Regions from separate parts of the Homo sapiens genome. Here region 1 is linked to region 2. A link means that fine-mapping ties the variant in region 2 to the expression of a gene that starts in the linked region. Tissue or cell type: prefrontal cortex. Region 2 holds a variant in brackets; the other region holds the start of a gene. All regions are shown on one strand. Distances are between the middles of the regions.

Region 1 (5,353 bases), 40 kb after region 2:
AATGAGTGAGTGAGGAGAGGAATGAGTGAGTGAGGAGAGGAATGAGTGAGTGAGGAGAGGAATGAGTGAGTGAGGAGAGGAATGAGTGAGTGAGGAGAGGAATGAGTGAGTGAGGAGAGGAATGAGTGAGTGAGGAGAGGAATGAGTGAGTGAGGAGAGGAATGAGTGAGTGAGGAGAGGAATGAGTGAGTGAGGAGAGGAATGAGTGAGTGAGGAGAGGAATGAGTGAGTGAGGAGAGGAATGAGTGAGTGAGGAGAAGAATGAGTGAGTGAGGAGAGGAATGAGTGAGTGAGGAGAAGAATGAGTGAGTGAGGAGAGGAATGAGTGAGTGAGGAGAAGAATGAGTGAGTGAGGAGAGGAATGAGTGAGTGAGGAGAAGAATGAGTGAGTGAGGAGAGGAATGAGTGAGTGAGGAGAGGAATGAGTGAGCGAGGAGAGGAATGAGTGAGCGAGGAGAGGAATGAGTGAGCGGGGAGAGGAATGAGTGAGTGGGGAGAGGAATGAGTGAGTGAGGAGAGGAATGAGTGAGCGAGGAGAGGAATGAGTGAGCGAGGAGAGGAATGAGTGAGCGAGGAGAGGAATGAGTGAGCGGGGAGAGGAATGAGTGAGCGGGGAGAGGAATGAGTGAGTGAGGAGAGGAATGAGTGAGCGAGGAGAGGAATGAGTGAGCGGGGAGAGGAATGAGTGAGCGGGGAGAGGAATGAGTGAGTGAGGAGAGGAATGAGTGAGTGAGGAGAGGAATGAGTGAGTGAGGAGAAGAATGAGTGAGTGAGGAGAAGAATGAGTGAGTGAGGAGAGGAATGAGTGAGTGAGGAGAGGAATGAGTGAGTGAGGAGAGGAATGAGTGAGTGAGGAGAGGAATGAGTGAGTGAGGAGAGGAATGAGTGAGTGAGGAGAGGAATGAGTGAGTGAGGAGAGGAATGAGTGAGTGAGGAGAGGAATGAGTGAGTGAGGAGAGGAATGAGTGAGTGAGGAGAGGAATGAGTGAGTGAGGAGAGGAATGAGTGAGTGAGGAGAGGAATGAGTGAGTGAGGAGAGGAATGAGTGAGTGAGGAGAGGAATGAGTGAGTGAGGAGAGGAATGAGTGAGTGAGGAGAGGAATGAGTGAGTGAGGAGAGGAATGAGTGAGTGAGGAGAGGAATGAGTGAGTGAGGAGAGGAATGAGTGAGTGAGGAGAAGAATGAGTGAGTGAGGAGAGGAATGAGTGAGTGAGGAGAGGAATGAGTGAGTGAGGAGAGGAATGAGTGAGTGAGGAGAGGAATGAGTGAGTGAGGAGAGGAATGAGTGAGTGAGGAGAGGAATGAGTGAGTGAGGAGAAGAATGAGTGAGTGAGGAGAGGAATGAGTGAGCGAGGAGAGGAATGAGTGAGCGGGGAGAGGAATGAGTGAGTGGGGAGAGGAATGAGTGAGTGAGGAGAGGAATGAGTGAGTGAGGAGAGGAATGAGTGAGTGAGGAGAGGAATGAGTGAGCGGGGAGAGGAATGAGTGAGCGAGGAGAGGAATGAGTGAGTGAGGAGAGGAATGAGTGAGTGAGGAGAGGAATGAGTGAGTGAGGAGAAGAATGAGTGAGTGAGGAGAAGAATGAGTGAGTGAGGAGAGGAATGAGTGAGTGAGGAGAGGAATGAGTGAGTGAGGAGAGGAATGAGTGAGTGAGGAGAAGAATGAGTGAGTGAGGAGAGGAATGAGTGAGTGAGGAGAAGAATGAGTGAGTGAGGAGAGGAATGAGTGAGTGAGGAGAAGAATGAGTGAGTGAGGAGAGGAATGAGTGAGTGAGGAGAAGAATGAGTGAGTGAGGAGAGGAATGAGTGAGTGAGGAGAAGAATGAGTGAGTGAGGAGAAGAATGAGTGAGTGAGGAGAGGAATGAGTGAGTGAGGAGAAGAATGAGTGAGTGAGGAGAGGAATGAGTGAGTGAGGAGAAGAATGAGTGAGTGAGGAGAAGAATGAGTGAGTGAGGAGAGGAATGAGTGAGTGAGGAGAAGAATGAGTGAGTGAGGAGAGGAATGAGTGAGTGAGCAGAGGAATGAGTGAGTGAGGAGAAGAATGAGTGAGTGAGGAGAAGAATGAGTGAGTGAGGAGAGGAATGAGTGAGTGAGCAGAGGAATGAGTGAGCGAGAAGAGGAATGAGTGAGTGGGCAGAGGAATGAGTGAGCGGGGAGAGGAATGAGTGAGCGGGGAGAGGAATGAGTGAGCGGGGAGAGGAATGAGTGAGCGGGGAGAGGAATGAGTGAGTGGGCAGAGGAATGAGTGAGTGGGCAGAGGAATGAGTGAGCGGGGAGAGGAATGAGTGAGTGGGCAGAGGAATGAGTGAGCTGCCTCCCTCTCTTCTCTGTGTTCCCACACCCCAGCCACCCTCAAAACCCAGCTCCCTGAGCCCCATTCCTGCCCCTCAGGAACTCCATGCATCCTGAGACCCCAGACCCGTCCTGCTGACAAACTCACCAGGCCCTGGTGTCCCCAAAACCAGTTCTGTTTCGGGGGTTGAGGAAAACACTGGAGGCGGCGGCAGTTGTCATAGAAGGTGTAGGTCCAGGCCAGGACGCGGGCCAGGAGCCAGGAGCCTCCAACCAGCAGCAGAAGCAGCCACGGGGATGCTGCCACGGGCCCGAGGCCCAGCCAGGACAGGCTCAGCTGCGGCATCCTGCAGGGCAGACGGGATGGAGGGTGGGATCCTGAGGCCCAGGGAAGGGCCCAGGAAGCTCCAAGGACAGTGGAAAGGGGCAAGGATGGGCAGTGCTGGAGGCAGATCAGGGAAGGCTCTGAGATGGGTAAACAAGAGCTGAGATCTAAAGTCCAGAAATGCCCAATGAAAACCAGCAGCCAAGTGGCCTCCAGTTACACAGAAAGGGAAAGAGAGAGAGAGGCTGATTAGAATCCAAAAAGGCCCAGCCTGAATCACTGGGAGGTTGCCAGGGGTCCAGTTACCAGGAAATCACCAGTCTCCCAGGCCAGCAGCCTTGACCCACCCCAACCTTGGGCAGTCCCCTCCCCATCCCAGGCCAGGACCCTCCAGCCCTGCCACTGCCAGCCTGGCTCCTATCAGAAGCAGCTTGTCCCACATACCCTCCTCTCCCCCTCTGCTAGGAGGTCTTTGCCTCTGGCCCCTGATTTCCGGAAGGCTGTGGGAGGCGAGGCTGGGCTGGGCTGGTCGAGCCAATCCCCATGGACTGGGTGTGTCTTCCAAGCCTGGGCAACCAACCAAAACCTGGCGTAGGGCCAGCTGGGTGCAGAGGAGCCAGCTCAGGGTGACACAGCATGGGCACAGGATCCGCAGGTCTCAACATCTCACACCTGAGTGGGAGGGGATCTTGAGGAAGAGTCAAAGGTGACTCTGAGCCCCAAAGTTTACAGCCACCTTGCCCTTCCAAGGCAAGAGTGTGGCAGATAAAGTCATGAACTTGAGAGTTCAGGTGGCAAGAGAGTGGGGCCAGGCCAACCATTGTGCCAGATCATGTTCTGAGCTCCTCTCCACATGTGGTCCAGGAGTTCATCATGCACCATTTCTCAGTGCAGACTTAGGAGATTCAGAGACAGAAGCTCCTGGCCTCTGGCTTCACAGTCTGGCAGGAGTTCAAGTCCTGCCTCCAGGCAACCCAGGGCCTGGGTCGAGACATGACTGACAGGAGTAGGAACAAACTATCTAACTGTGCTGGGGATTACCCGGTCAGATTTTAGAGATAAAGAGCCCCGCTGGAGGAGAATACCTGGAGGCTAGGTTCAGCATAGGAGGACAGAGAGGGGAGATGGGAGGTAAGGCTGAGAGGGGCCATGAGTGGATGGGGCCAGGGACAGGAGGGCAGAGATGGGGGACCCTGAGTGGAGTCCTTATTCTGCCCTCCCCTTGCCCTAACTGTGGGTAGTGAGCCCCTCCTGGACTCAGGCTTCCCATCTGGGAAATGGGATGTCAGATAAGGCCTTAGAGGGGGACAGAGGAGGGATCACAGGAAAATGGGCCTTAGATGGGGACAGATGAAAGATTCTGAGGAGGGAGTGAAGGGAAGGGGCTGGCAGCTAGCACTTTAGCTGCTGTGTGTCAGTCTCTGCTCTTTGCAAAAGACAATATGCAAAGTTCTTTTACTGTGTACTGGACTCTAAATAAAGCACACCTACCATGTGCCAGGTACTCTGTATACATGTTGTGTACTGTGTGCCAAGTGCTCTATGAAAAGTGTGTCCACTGTGTGCTGGGCGCTCTACAGAAAATCTTGCTTCTTTGTTCTCGGTCCTCTATATAAAGTGAAATTTGTGCGGAGTAACTTATGTAAAGTGTACCTACTCTGCACCTGCTGCTCTATATAAAACACACCTACTGTGTGTCAGATGTTCTATGTAGAGCATGTTTACTACGTGCCTGGTGATCTATGTCAAGTGCACCTACTGTGTGTCAAGTGCTCTACATAAAGCGTGCCTACTCTGGGTGCTGGGTACTCTTCATAAACTGTGACTCCATGTGTCCGGTACTCTACATAAAGCACACCTACTGTATGCCAGATGCTCTACATAAAGTGTTCTTTCTGTGTGTCAAGTGCTCTACATAAAGCGTGCCTACTCTGGATGCTGGGTACTCTTCATAAACTCTGACTCTGTGTGGCCGGTACTCTACATAATGCACACCTACTGTGTGCCAGATGCTCTATATAAAGTGTTTTTTCTGTGTGTCAAGTGCTCCACATAAAGTAAAACTACTCTATGTAAAGTTCTTGACATAAAGAATGCCTACTGTGTGCAAGGCACTCTCCACAAAGCACTCCTACTATGTGGCAGGGGCTCTAGGTAAAGCATGCCTACTGTGTTCCACCTACTCTAGGTCAAGTGCACCTGCTCATGTCAGATGCTCACCCGCGTCACCATGCCCAAAGCCTTCACACCAACCTCCCCTCGGTTCTCTGAGCCAGAGCCCTGGGATTGTTGGAGAGACCTGAGTGATGGCATCCAGAGAAGGGAATGCATCCATTTAACAAAAGAGCAAACTGAGTCTCAGAGAGGGCAGGCCTCTAGCCCAAGTTACAGAGCTCACAGGAAGCCAGGTTTGTGAGATCCTCAAGCCCAAACCTTTTTCCTCTGCCATGCTGTTCTGCACCCATTCATTAGGGTCAATGCCATATTAATACAGGGACATGTATAAATGGAGGAATCTCAGGCAATGTCATGGTCCCAGAGGGGAAATATCTTGAGGTCTTTGAATCAGCACCTGGCTCCTCCTCCCACACCCCGGATGCTCCACCCAGCAGACCCAGGGCTCCCCTCCTGGCCCTCCTTGTATCCTGTCCAGAATTGCCCTGCCGGGTGGACTTGGGTGAGGGGGTGCTTGAAGGATGGGGCTCCTAGCACAGCTGCTAAGCAGGAGGGCAGGGA
Region 2 (5,321 bases):
AACTCCAGACTAGATCTCTCTGTTGTCCTTTCACCCCAAGGCTGCAAGTGGGACCTTGGCTTCAAATAACTCACGTGCATGATGTTCACACTCTCATTGAAAATCTTCATATAGGGCTTCAGGATGTTGAAATGGAAGGCAGGCGTCAGCATCCGACGGTGGCGGCTCCACTTGTCACCAGCACTCAGCAGGAGCCCATCCCCTAGCAGGGCAGCCAAGGGCCATGGGCAAGGACCTCTCCCTCCCCTGGCCCCCCAACGTTTTTCCCAACCCTGTTCACCTGCAGATACTCACCCAGCCAGGGCTCCAGGAAGCTGTAGAAGAACTTGTCCTTTGGTGCAATGGCAGCTGACATAAATGAGGACAATCAGGGGCCATGGAGGCAGGTGAAAGAGGGACTTTGGGGGTGGGTGGAGGCTCCCAGCAAGAGGTTTGCACTTCTCCCACTCTGAGCCCCACATAGCAGGAAGAGGGCCAAGGGCAGAGGAAGAAGGGAGGATGGGGAGGGGAGGGAAGACCAGACCAGGCTACAGCAGCACAGTACAGCAATGACACTGCCTAACATGGCGTGTAGGAGCTATGTCAGGGTTCCAGCATGCCTTGACATGCCTCCTACACGATCCAACATGTTCCGCAACCCCTGAGCACAGCTCAGCATTCTACAGAATGCTTCACAAGGACCTAGGACACCCTGTCTGTCCCAGCACTCTCTGACATCTTCTGATATGGCATCTTCTGACATGGACCTGGACATGAGACATGACCCTGACATGTGTTCACATGTCCTGACATGGCCACAAAATACATGACAATTCCTAACATGAGATGGTGTGCTCTAACATGCACATGAGATGGTCTAACATGATCTTAAAAGCGTGTTCCACATACAGGCTCTGGGTTGAATATAAATATGGTACCTTTAATGTCACAGACATAGCCAACATGTGAACCAGACTGTTCCTCAGGCATGACCCAAATATACTATAACACATGCCTCAGACAAGACTCAAATAATGTCTCAGACAGTTCACATAGGGACCCTGGGTCCCAGACCTCACACAACCCCCAGACCTCACACAACGCCCAGATGTTTGGACCACCAGGAGAAAACGGCAGTGTCAAACAGCACCTGAGACAAGAACCAAACAGGCCCTCACATGCCCCAAATGTCCTTGGCCACAGATAAGCCCCAAACTTGACCAGCTCTACATGACCCCAGTTGGAATTATATACCAGATGTAACCAGGTATAACATATTTCAGGTGTAACCAGGACCCAGGTGTAAATATACAAGGCAGACCTGGCCATATAACAGCCATTGTAGAGACACGCCCCAGACATGAGCAAACAGCAACAGAGGTTAGACAGGTGGAAGTCCAGGGGCGATGGAGGCAATGGCATCTCCACCACAGCCCCTCCTGTCTGCACATCGGTCACGTGTTCAGCTGGAGGCAGCACAGCAACCCCAGCTGTGGGCAAAGCTTGGCCAGTGCGATGTCTACCTGGAGCAAAGAGCACAGGCTTGATGCACGTGGGGAGAAAGATGTGGATGACTGCCTGCCAGGGCCCCACCCACCAGCAGCCCATATCCCCAAAGGTGCACGCCAGGCTTTGTGTGTATAGGAGACCTTCTTCTGAGCTGTGAATCTGGAGAAAAACACACAGGACCCAATTCATGCTCTCCTAGGCTGTGAGAGAGAAGGATCTGCAGGGAAGAGGTCGAAGCCCTCTCCCTGAGAATTTCAAGCAGCATCTCATCCTCCTGTCAGTGCTGAGCACCCCCTGCCTCCTCACATCCTCCATGCAGGACTCTCCAGTCCTTCAGTTACACAGACAGAAAAGGTCTTTCCCCATGTGGATCCACACACCATGTTCCCTGGGCTCTCATTCATCCCATTTTCCAGATGAAGAGCCTGAGGCTCTGAACAATAAAGTCACTTGCCCACAGTCCCAGACCACGGCAAGCCTGAGGCCTAAGACTAGGTCTGTCTGCACCCATGGCCTGAATCCTTAACCAACAAACTTCTTTGTGCCCCCAAAACAGTAGCTCTGGAAGACCCAGGCCTACCAAGACTGGGCAATCAGAGACACAGGGATTGGGTGAAAAATTGGTCCTGTGATCCAGGCCAGGAGAAGTAAACCATGGGCCATTTCTGGGAACTCTAGGGGAAAGGTGGCCTTTCCCATAAGAACTGAGCTTCTGGGACTCATCGTTGACATCATGAGGAAAAGGCCACCTTGATAGGAAAAGCGACATGGAGAAAGCTAAAGCCAAGAGAGAAAGACAGATTTCCAGTGACCTTGTGTGAGACCTGGATCCAGCCATGCCTGAAGGCCACCCTCCCTGGACTTTAAAGTCAATAGATTATCTTTCTTTGCTTAGACCACACCAGGTTGGGTTTCCACCACTCACAACTGAAAGAGACTTCAATAACCAGAGACAGCTGGGTACCAGCCCAGAGTCACTCAGCATTTTGAGGTCAGAGCCATGGTCTCTGTAGGATGCTGCCCATTCCCCCTGCTCAGCCTCGCCCGTCCAACGATGGGAAGCACAGGGGTCAAGGAAAGGGACCCAAGCTGGGGTGGAGTCTCCTCTTGGAGATCCCCGGGACCTGCAGCAGGAGAGCAACGAACTTAGGGCAGACAAGCTATAGGATGGGGTAAAGGGAATTGACCCACCAGAGGTGGACATCATGGAAGTAGCAGCCCAGATCCCCCACCAGCCACAAGTCCTCCTCATTGTTCTAGGCTTTGGGACAGGCAAGGTGATGCTAGGCCTGGCAAGGGGCCTTGAATACTAACGATGTCCAATTGCCTCACCCTGCACTCTCCTTTCAAACATTCCTACTCATTGTTCCAGACACAGCTCCAGTAACTCCTCCTCTAGGAAGCCTTCCAGCCTGCCCCAGCAGAGACCTTGTTCTTCCCTGGGCTGTGATCCATCTCCCTCTGGCCCTTTCCTGATCCCATGAAGTTGGGGATATCTCTATCCAGGTCCATCTCCTTAAAGTTGGGGGTTCCTCCAGGAC[T/A]GGGCCTTGGGTTGAGGTCTCTTAGGGTTCCAGGGCAGCCCAGAACACCAGAACAGGGGGTAGATGGCAATAGAGAGAGGAGACGCTGAGATGGAAATTGATGAATACATGAAAGAAAGATGAAGATAGCTGAGAGGGAAGGAAAGGAGAGGCCAGAGTACTGCAGGGCCCACACAGGAGCTTGGGGATAGCGGAAGTGCAGGCCTCAAATGCACTGCCCCACCAGCTGTTCCAGATGGTACCTGAGGCGTTGATGACAGACCGGATGATGTCGGGGTGGCACAAACTGAGGAGGGGGGAGATGGGTCCCATCCAGACCTTAAAGCCCTGGGGGTAGGTGGCCACCAGCTGAGTCAGAACTCTCATGCCCTCCTCTGTGGGGTTGACCTGCAAGCAAGGCAGGGGTCATTACCTTCTGTGATAGTTAATTCTAGGTGTCTACTTGACTGGGCTAAGGGATGCCCAGGTAGTTGGTCAAACATTATTTCTGGGTGTGTCTAATCTATTCATCCTATCTATCTAATTTTTCTATCTATATATCTATCTGCCTACCCATCTATCCATCAATCCATTTTATCTGTGCTTTCATCCATCCATATATTCATCTGTCTGTCTGCTTATCATCTATTAATAGCCATCTATCCGTCTAATCTATCCATCATATATATCTACTCCATCTGTCTACATAATCTATCCATCCTATCTACTCTATCTACCCATCCATCCATCATCCATCCATCCATCCATCCTATCTGTGCATCCGTGTGTCCATGCATCCATATGTCCTATTATTTGTCTATCTATCTATCCATCCATCCATCCATCCATCCATCCATCCATCCATGCTATCTGTGCATCCATGTGTCCATGCATCCATCTATTCTATTATCTATCTACCTACGTGCCTGTCCATCCATCCATCCATCCATCTATCCATCCTATCTGTGCATCTATCTATCTATCCTATTAGCTATCTATCTATCTATCTATCTATCTATCTATCTATCTATCTACATTCCTCCTGCTCTATCTATCTATCTATCCACATTCCTCCTGCTCTATCTCTCTTGGGTCCATCTCCAAGTCCCAAGGGTGCATCCCAGGGCAGAGGGAGAAGACGCACTGTCCACTCACAGAGGCCCAGTTATCTTGAGAGGAAGGATTTTCTTTTTCTGGGAGTCATTTCAGCCCAGAGGCAGCTATATGGGGAGGTCCTCACAGGGGAGATTTGTGGGGAGCAGTATCGCCTCAGGACATGTCCCTAAGGCTGGTCCCCACATGCCTTCATGTCCTGGCTGATCCACAGAGGCTCCAGTTCCTCCCATGGAGAAGGTTCTGCACATGGGAGACCTTCCCTTTTCAGCAGCCACTAGTGGAGCAGAGGTGACTCTAACTGTCCATCAGGACAATGGCTCCCACCTGGGAGCAGCTTCTGCAGCAGGCTCTGTGCTAGTGTGTCCTGTGCACCCTTCCACTTTATCTGTGGACACATCCATCAATCCTGCCATTTGCAAATGAGCAGACTAAGACCACATTCCCCAAAGAGGAGAGCGGTCTAAGTCAGAGGGCAAGGTCACGGGGAGGAGAAAGGCCAAGGAAAGCTTCTGAAAGGTGAAGTGAGTGGCCAACTTTTATCTGGGTTTGGCAACAGGTCTCATTGATAAGAGGGAGATAAGAAGAAGAATATAAGAGAAAGGTGCCTTCGGGTGTAGTGGAAGTGGGAGACGGCCCATGCCTCTCCTCTGGCCCAGCTGTACCCTCATAACAGGAAATAGTCCAGGCAAGGAGAGGACCCTGGACAGTGGGCATAAGAAGCCTCGAGTCCAGCAATGGAGAATGTGGGAATGCCAGGGACTCGCCTCTCTGTGCAGCCAACCCTCTGCCCAGGAGCCCCGCAGAGGTGCATTAATGTGGGAAGACAGGCAGGAAAAGGATTCAATGCAGGCCTGGAGTGGGAGGACAAGGAAGTGAGAAGGGCTTGCGTAGGCACCTCACAGAAATGAATAAGCAGAGGAATGAGTAAGATGCCTCCTCTGCTTCTCTGCCACCCCAGATCCCAGCCCACCCCTTCACCCCCACTCCCTAAGCCTCGTACCCCTCAGGAAGTCCATCCATCCTGAGACCTAGACCCATCCTGCTGCCACACTCACCATGCCCTGGTGTCCCCAAAACCAGTTCCGTCTTGGGGGTTGTGGGAAACACCGAAGGCGGCGGCAGTTGTCATAGAAGGCGTAGGTCCAGGCCAGGACATGGGCCAGGAGCCAGGAGGCCCCGACCAGCAGGAGGAGCAGC

What was found. PIP is the estimated chance that this variant, and not a neighbour inherited with it, causes the effect.
Region 1: it holds the start of CYP4F11, and the variant in region 2 is the best candidate, but not a certain one, in a credible set for the expression of CYP4F11 in prefrontal cortex (CommonMind, PIP 0.70).

Annotation. Positions count from the first base shown.
Region 1 is chr19:15,931,771-15,937,123 of GRCh38, forward strand. It overlaps CYP4F11 (cytochrome P450 family 4 subfamily F member 11), which reads right to left and starts at 2,759. Exons shown (of 12, transcript NM_021187.4): 1 at 2,441-2,759. The coding sequence starts at 2,638.
Region 2 is chr19:15,892,235-15,897,555 of GRCh38, forward strand. It overlaps CYP4F2 (cytochrome P450 family 4 subfamily F member 2), which reads right to left. Exons shown (of 13, transcript NM_001082.5): 2 at 5,180-5,321; 3 at 3,272-3,416; 4 at 295-348; 5 at 75-202. Among named protein-coding and RNA genes, the nearest start is that of CYP4F2, 3.2 kb to the right of the region's middle. RefSeq lists an enhancer at 1-1,051. The variant T/A (reference allele first, on the strand shown) is at 3,030.